Homo sapiens: one gene and its partner. The protein of the gene in region 1 interacts with the protein of each later gene in a pairwise test. Each region holds a gene or a part of one and is shown on either strand. Other genes may lie near its edges.

The links.
Region 2: the proteins of MPPED2 (region 1) and NUP93 interact in binary tests that used the Homo sapiens proteins (3 or more experiments, as listed by UniProt).

What each region holds. Positions count from the first base shown.
Region 1 is NC_000011.10:30,412,241-30,415,578, reverse strand, and holds part of MPPED2 (metallophosphoesterase MPPED2), read left to right. Parts: intron 1-1,237; coding exon 1,238-1,351; intron 1,352-3,338. UniProt on the Homo sapiens protein: Displays low metallophosphoesterase activity (in vitro). May play a role in the development of the nervous system.
Region 2 is NC_000016.10:56,831,129-56,834,628, forward strand, and holds part of NUP93 (nuclear pore complex protein Nup93), read left to right. Parts: intron 1-713; coding exon 714-879; intron 880-1,166; coding exon 1,167-1,260; intron 1,261-2,086; coding exon 2,087-2,278; intron 2,279-2,999; coding exon 3,000-3,126; intron 3,127-3,241; coding exon 3,242-3,314; intron 3,315-3,500. UniProt on the Homo sapiens protein: Plays a role in the nuclear pore complex (NPC) assembly and/or maintenance. May anchor nucleoporins, but not NUP153 and TPR, to the NPC. During renal development, regulates podocyte migration and proliferation through SMAD4 signaling.

The DNA of each region.
Region 1 (3,338 bases):
ATAGCTATTGGGATTCTTGTGAAAACGTGACATTGGAGAGGGGAGTGGAGAGACTGGCCTTGAATTTCTTCCTGCTGGTGAGGGATGCCACAGTGCCGTGAGACTTCACTGTTATGGTATAAGCAAGATGCTTTCTCAGATGTTTGCATATGAAATGGAATATTTTCCCCCTTCAGGAAAAACACATGCATGAGGTAATATGCCAATCAATGTAGCTTAAGAATTCTGCCCCACTATTAAAAAAGTTTTGAAAACGCTGGATAGATTTTTGCTGGGGACCCCACTTTCATCTATTTTCAGACTCTCTAGTCACTCCTTAAACCCCAGCGAATATGTCTTTACAGAGACACTAAACGTTCATGTCTGCAGTTTGGCCCGAAAAAGCAGAAAGCTGTTCCTTACTGCCCAGTTATTTCTAAATAATAGAAATAACCTAATGGCGCTGTGGAATGGGTTTCCAGAGATTACGATTTAGCCTTTCATCCTACCTGCCTTCTTTATGCCCTATCCTGCTGAGGCGTATGGATTCCATTCCAGGCCATAATCATCCAGATAGCTGACTTTTGCTATAATTGATGTCAGTTTTTATGGATTTTCTGCATTAAGTGTAGAACTAAGTGGCTTTTACTTTAAAAGTAGTCAATTAGCCCCAGCTTGCTGGATGCCACTGTGAGGTCACATTTTTGCCTGTCGCTGGAGAGGACAGGACCACAGGAGCAACCTAGCTTTCCAAAGCTTTGGTCATCCGGAACCACAAGGGGTAAGACTTAGTGTATCTAAAGAGAGCTGGGTATCTTGTGACCAGTTTACAGGCAGCTCCTCTCAGTCCTTCTTTGAATCATCTTAGAAGTAAACTGCTATAAGAAAGATATAATAAAATAGCGAAAGTAACTGAATTGAGGGAGAAAGAGATATTATGGGACTGCCGGGAATAAATGTCATTGAGCTCATGAAGAAGATTTGAAACCCATGGCTGAATAAATCAAATCTCCTACAGAAAAAAAAATGTTAATTAACAGGAAGAAAAAAAAATGGAAACCAAAAAAAAATTTCAAGAACCTAAAGAAGACAAAGTGACGAGTGAAAAGTTTCTTAAAAGCCATTGTGAGCTTTAATGGAGAGGCTAGGATTACAGATAATGTAATAAACCTTCTGTGAGTTATGGCTTCCTGAAAGTCTAAATGAAACCTTACCTGAAGAAAGAAAATTAAGTGTATTGATTGCATTTTGCCCTTAGGTTTTCGAGACTGGGTTCCAAAGGAGCTTCAAAGAGTGGGCTGTGTGGAGCTGTTAAACACGGTTCAGAGGCGAGTCCGGCCCAAGCTCCATGTGTTTGGTGGAATCCATGAAGGTAAGAACAGCGGAAAAGAATTCAAAACATTTTGTGCCCCTGTCCACTATCTCAGTCTACAACTAGGAATAAGTGGAGTAGTTGTTTTCAAACTTTTTAGCAGCGGGACCCTTTTATAAGATGAAGTCTTATGAGAAACATCTGAATATAAAGCTGATAAATATTTTATATGGACCTTCTCTCTTGTAAACAGAGTGGAAAGTAGGAAGCACGTCTGGTCTACTAACTGCAAACCCTGCACTCCCCCTGGCAGCTTCTGGAATCTCAGGGCTTTAACGAGGAATGTTTGATAACCACTGCTTTAGAGCAACCCCAAGGTATACAAGGAGTCATTTTCTCCTTAAGAGAGTTAGAAGAAATGGTCTGGATATTAGAAGCTATTTTAAGCCTCTATAGTCCCCTCCTACCTGTAAATATTGTGTTTCATATGGAATTAACACAAAGACCCAGGAAGACAAGGCATTCTCTGAAAAATAGCTTAGGACATGCAATGAAAGATATGTAACAGAAGTGGCGGGAACCTGCACATTTGCAGGTAGACTTTTCCTTACTAACCTCAGAAAACTATTTCAGACTTCTCAGAAATCATCGGAGCTATTAGCTCAGGCTGAGGTTAAGCAGAATAATTAAATCTCTCTTAAATAGGAACTGGTCCAGTTGCCATTTTTCTGCCTTTCAAGGTAAGCTGAGTCAGGTTCACAGAACCGAAAGCCTAACAGGAATCTTCAAGGGATCTGGGTTTTCTCCGACCTGCCTTTTTCAAATCATGGGTAACTGGGCTTTGAGACAGACACAAAGCCCTCTTTCAGCAAGCCTAAGGATTTCTGTCCCTAGCAGATTTTCCCAGTTACACACGCTTGTGTGCAATGGCCGTGTTTACGTGGGCAGCCGCTATATTCTCTCTAGCTCCTGCTTATGGCAGCTCTCTGGAGTTACTTATGAATATGCAGTCAAGTTGAGGTGTTTAAGGCTGTGTGCCTGAGGAAGCAAAAAACAAAGTTTGCTTTTTCAAAGCCCACAAATTCAGTGGCTTCCTGGTTAGGTGGGTAATAAAGAGCATATTGAAAATCATCCTACTGAGGCCAGAGAAAATTCAGTTTGCTCCAAGGGCAGGTACCAGCTGAGTGGGTGGAAAGCAGGGTGCAGCTCCCAGAGAGTGGATATCGGCCTGCCCTGGCTTTGAGCTATGCTCCCTGAAAAGGAGGGTACTGCCCTAAGGTATGATGGAGGGAACACCAGTGATGGGGGAATGCCTGGAGGGGAGACTAGGGAGGTGGGACCTCATATCTAAACTAAGCAACATTTCTGGAGGACTGTTATTCTGAAAACAGGTCTGAATTCGTGCAGCATGCCTATGAGTTTGCATTTTATCTTTGAAAAAAATCATTAATTACCTTTAAACTAGCCAGACAATTGGGGAATTCCACTGAAGCCCCAAAATAATAAACTTGCCTAAAAGGGAGGAGATCATATTCATATAAACTTGTCTCACTTTTATTCACTTAAGACAGCTGAAGAGGGCAGGAAGAGGGCAAATACCAACCTCTTGATGGAGAGAGATAACAAGACTTTATGACCCCAGAACTAAACAGCGCAGATTTTAAATGCCTCTTTTCTTTTCTTAAGAGATTTTTCCATTGACCCTCATTAAGTTCTCCACAGGCTTTACTTGGAGAAATTTTAGCCAATGTGGAAAAAAGCCTTTTCAGTTACTTCTCTATATCTTGGTAATTTTATTTTTTTCACAGCTATGTTTTTATATGCGATAAGAGCCTGATACCAACATAGAATCTTAGTTGAAGAGGCTATAAGGCAAATATAAGGTATTCAGGGAAATGTGCCAACTTGCAAACATGCTAAACATTTTATCATATTGAAAATTATCAAAGGAACATATATACCAAAGACCTAGGGAAACAACTTTCTCCCAATAAATCACAAAAGGTTTATATTGCATATGGGAAGTGTTTTTGCTTGATCTAGTATC
Region 2 (3,500 bases), on another chromosome or scaffold:
TAATCATTGAATTGATTCATTAAGTCTTTAAGTTCTCTTGCATTAAGGAACTGCTAAGCATTAATTTTCCTTGGATTTTGCTAATGTAATTGGACTTAAGCTCATACTCAAACTGAGGTTATATATATGTACATGTATGTAGAAGAAATGATGGCGGTTACTGTAGCTGTACTTGTGAAAAACTAGGATACTTTTCTTGGCAGCATTACTAATGTCATATCAAGAGATTGCCTCAAACCAGAAGCCCCTGTCTTGCTCATGTTAGAATTTAAAGTAGGGTTAATGTCTTAAGGTTCCCCCAGAAGGAGATTTGAGTGCAAGTTGTTTATTTAGGAGGTGATCTCACATGAATAAGGGAGTGTGGAGGCCAGGGAGGGGCTAAGACAGTTAAGGGAAGGATTCACTCCTGTCCATCACTGCTTGAGTGCTGCTGGGTTGTGCAATGGAGTTCTAATTCCCTGGCATTTCTCACCTGCCCATGAAGGCCTCAGCAAATAGAAAACCGGCAGGCCAATAGATACAGGTGCAGGTAGTTGCAAGTCAGGTTAAAGCGATGGTACCGAGGGGAGGGGATGGGGCAGAGACAGTGTCTCTTACCCCGGATGAAGGAAGGCTTCCCTGCTTTTATGTGTTTGGGACCTGGGACGCTTTCAGATGCCCTTGAGGATTTTTATTGAGTATGTATCTATCTGTCTGTTCCCTTATGTCTGTAGATTGTCCCCAGCTACGGAAAACAAGCTCCGGCTGCATTACCGTAGGGCCCTCAGGAACAATACAGATCCCTACAAGCGGGCCGTGTACTGTATCATTGGCAGATGTGACGTCACCGACAACCAGAGTGAAGTGGCGGACAAAACTGAGGATTACCTGTGGCTGAAGGTAGGCACTGTTTCCCCTGCCCACATAGGGCTTTACCCCTTTTCTGTGCTCAAGTCCCCGCAAAGATTTTACCTGCTTAATGTATGATGCCAATACAGTGATCAGGACCAGTGGGTTCCTCGTCTCCTGTCCCCATTTTTTGTTGTGTAATTCCCAGCTCATAACCATAGCCTTAAACACAGCTTCTAGCTGACATCATTGAGCATGGCTGCTGAACAGCTACAACTCTGTGCATGTGGCTCAGGGTGTCATTTGTACCAATGCATGTGTTTCTCTTGGGGATTTAGTTGAACCAAGTGTGTTTTGACGACGATGGCACCAGCTCCCCACAAGACAGGCTCACTCTCTCACAGTTCCAGAAGCAGTTGTTGGAAGACTATGGTAAGATTCTGGACATAACCACCTTTCCCTTCTCTTGTCCACTTAAGGTGACTACTTCAGTTTTCCTCTGGGAAAATTTTTCATCTCTGAACTTTTGTCTTTCTTCCAAAACTCCTATAGATTGTCAAGGCAAAACACAACAAAACTACCATTCCAAATTCAAATAAAGGGCATGTGGCCTTAAGAAATACATAAAACTTATATGGTCATACACAATAATCTGTTTTCTCTAATTCTTTGAACTGTTCTAGTAGACATATGCTCAGGGAGAGAAAAAGAAGACTTAGCTGTTGCTTCCTAGTCGATCGTACCAGTCACTAGATCTGAGCACAAAGGAGAGAGAAACAGCCTTTCTTCTTTTTTCCCGTATTTTTTAAAAACTGAGAAGAAAAGAAGATTCCAAATAGTGGTTACCAGTTGTTGCATTCAGATTTCTGTGACTGTGAGTAAACTGAAACTCCTTTGAAATCTTCATTTCTCTCCTTGAGTGACTTAACAGGGTAAAGGAGATAAACACTCTCTGTGGTCCATTTTAAGGTCCTTAGCTCTGTTTCTCTCCCACCTAATGCAAGCAGTTGGAGTTTTACAGCACAGTCACAGTTTCCAGTAATGTTATGAGGTCTAGAGAAGGTGGAGGAGCCAGGTCACATTTCACATGGCAGTTTACTGTATTCAGGGCCCCCTTGATCAATTCAGACTCAATCTGGTGCTTTCTTCCTGTCCAGCAAGTCCTGTGGGCTCACAGGGCTGCTGCCTGGGGGTTGGGCCACCAGTGAGCCCCTTCTTTCTAAGTTGGTTTTATCTCCTCTCCTCTCCTCTCTCCCAGGCGAGTCCCACTTTACGGTGAACCAGCAACCCTTCCTCTACTTCCAAGTCCTGTTCCTGACAGCGCAGTTTGAAGCAGCAGTTGCCTTTCTTTTCCGCATGGAGCGGCTGCGCTGCCATGCTGTCCATGTAGCACTGGTGCTGTTTGAGCTGAAGCTGCTTTTAAAGTCCTCTGGACAGAGTGCTCAGCTCCGTGAGTATTTGGGATTGGATTGACAGTAATGTAACCACAGCACGTCCCCCTTGGGGCGACGGTGGCCACAAAACCACAACCAATAAGGATTTGAGCAAAGGGTACCAGTCATTTTAGAGCATGTGGACAGTTGAGCTTTTTAGATGATTAGTGTTAAGGGTTCCTGCTTCCCCCCCACCCCCCAGCATTAGTATTCCCTTGAAAGTTAAGTATATAAAGTGATGTTCAAAGTACTAGCTTTGTGGCCAGTCTGATTGCCTGGAAAATGCTGAAGAAGCAGCCCCTAGAGTTATGGGTCTGATTCCCATTAGGGCTGGCTTTAATGACATTGGAAACCCCAGCCAGGCATGTGCATACCTGCCTGGGATGAGAGAGTCAGGGGAGAGAGAGGAAGTAAATGTGGATGAATGGCTGCAGGTTCCTTATTGTTGCAGCAAAGTCATCCCAGAGCACATGCCATAATCGTCAGTTGGATTATGTTTTCACTCAAAGACCAGCATATTAGTAATTTATGGCAAAGTGCTGTTTTCTCCACTCTGGGCCTGGGGATGAATTGAGGATAGGATGGTAAAAGGGACTGGCCAAAGCTTATATTAGCAAACTTTGACTGGGCTGCAGGAGTAGATGCTGCTGGGTCTGTGGATTCAGCTTCCATAGTTTCTGGGTTGCATGGGTCAGAGGGGCAGTGTGGTTGTGACCCATTCTGACCCCCACAATGCAGTCAGCCACGAGCCTGGTGACCCTCCTTGCTTGCGGCGGCTGAACTTCGTGCGGCTCCTCATGCTGTACACCCGGAAGTTTGAGTCCACGGACCCAAGGGAGGCCCTCCAGTACTTCTATTTCCTCAGGTAACATTTGCTTTTGACCATTTACTTCAGCTAGTTTCAATTTCTGCCATTCTGAGAATGACTATTAGAGACCTCATGTCCAGACTGGAAACTGAGTTGTTTATTTCCCTTACAGGGATGAGAAAGATAGTCAAGGAGAAAACATGTTTCTGCGCTGTGTGAGTGAGCTTGTGATTGAAAGCCGAGAGGTGAGTGGGTTTCCTTTTCTCTCCTCCCCATGGTTTTCAGTGTGCATGTCCCATGCTCATTCCGTATTGCGTGTTTACTTCAATATGGTTGTGGTGGATAAGGCCTAGGGAGTTTTTGGAGTTTCTTTGGTTTCTAACAATGAAAATATTTATTTCAGTCACACTGATTTTTAGTTTGCCTAAGAC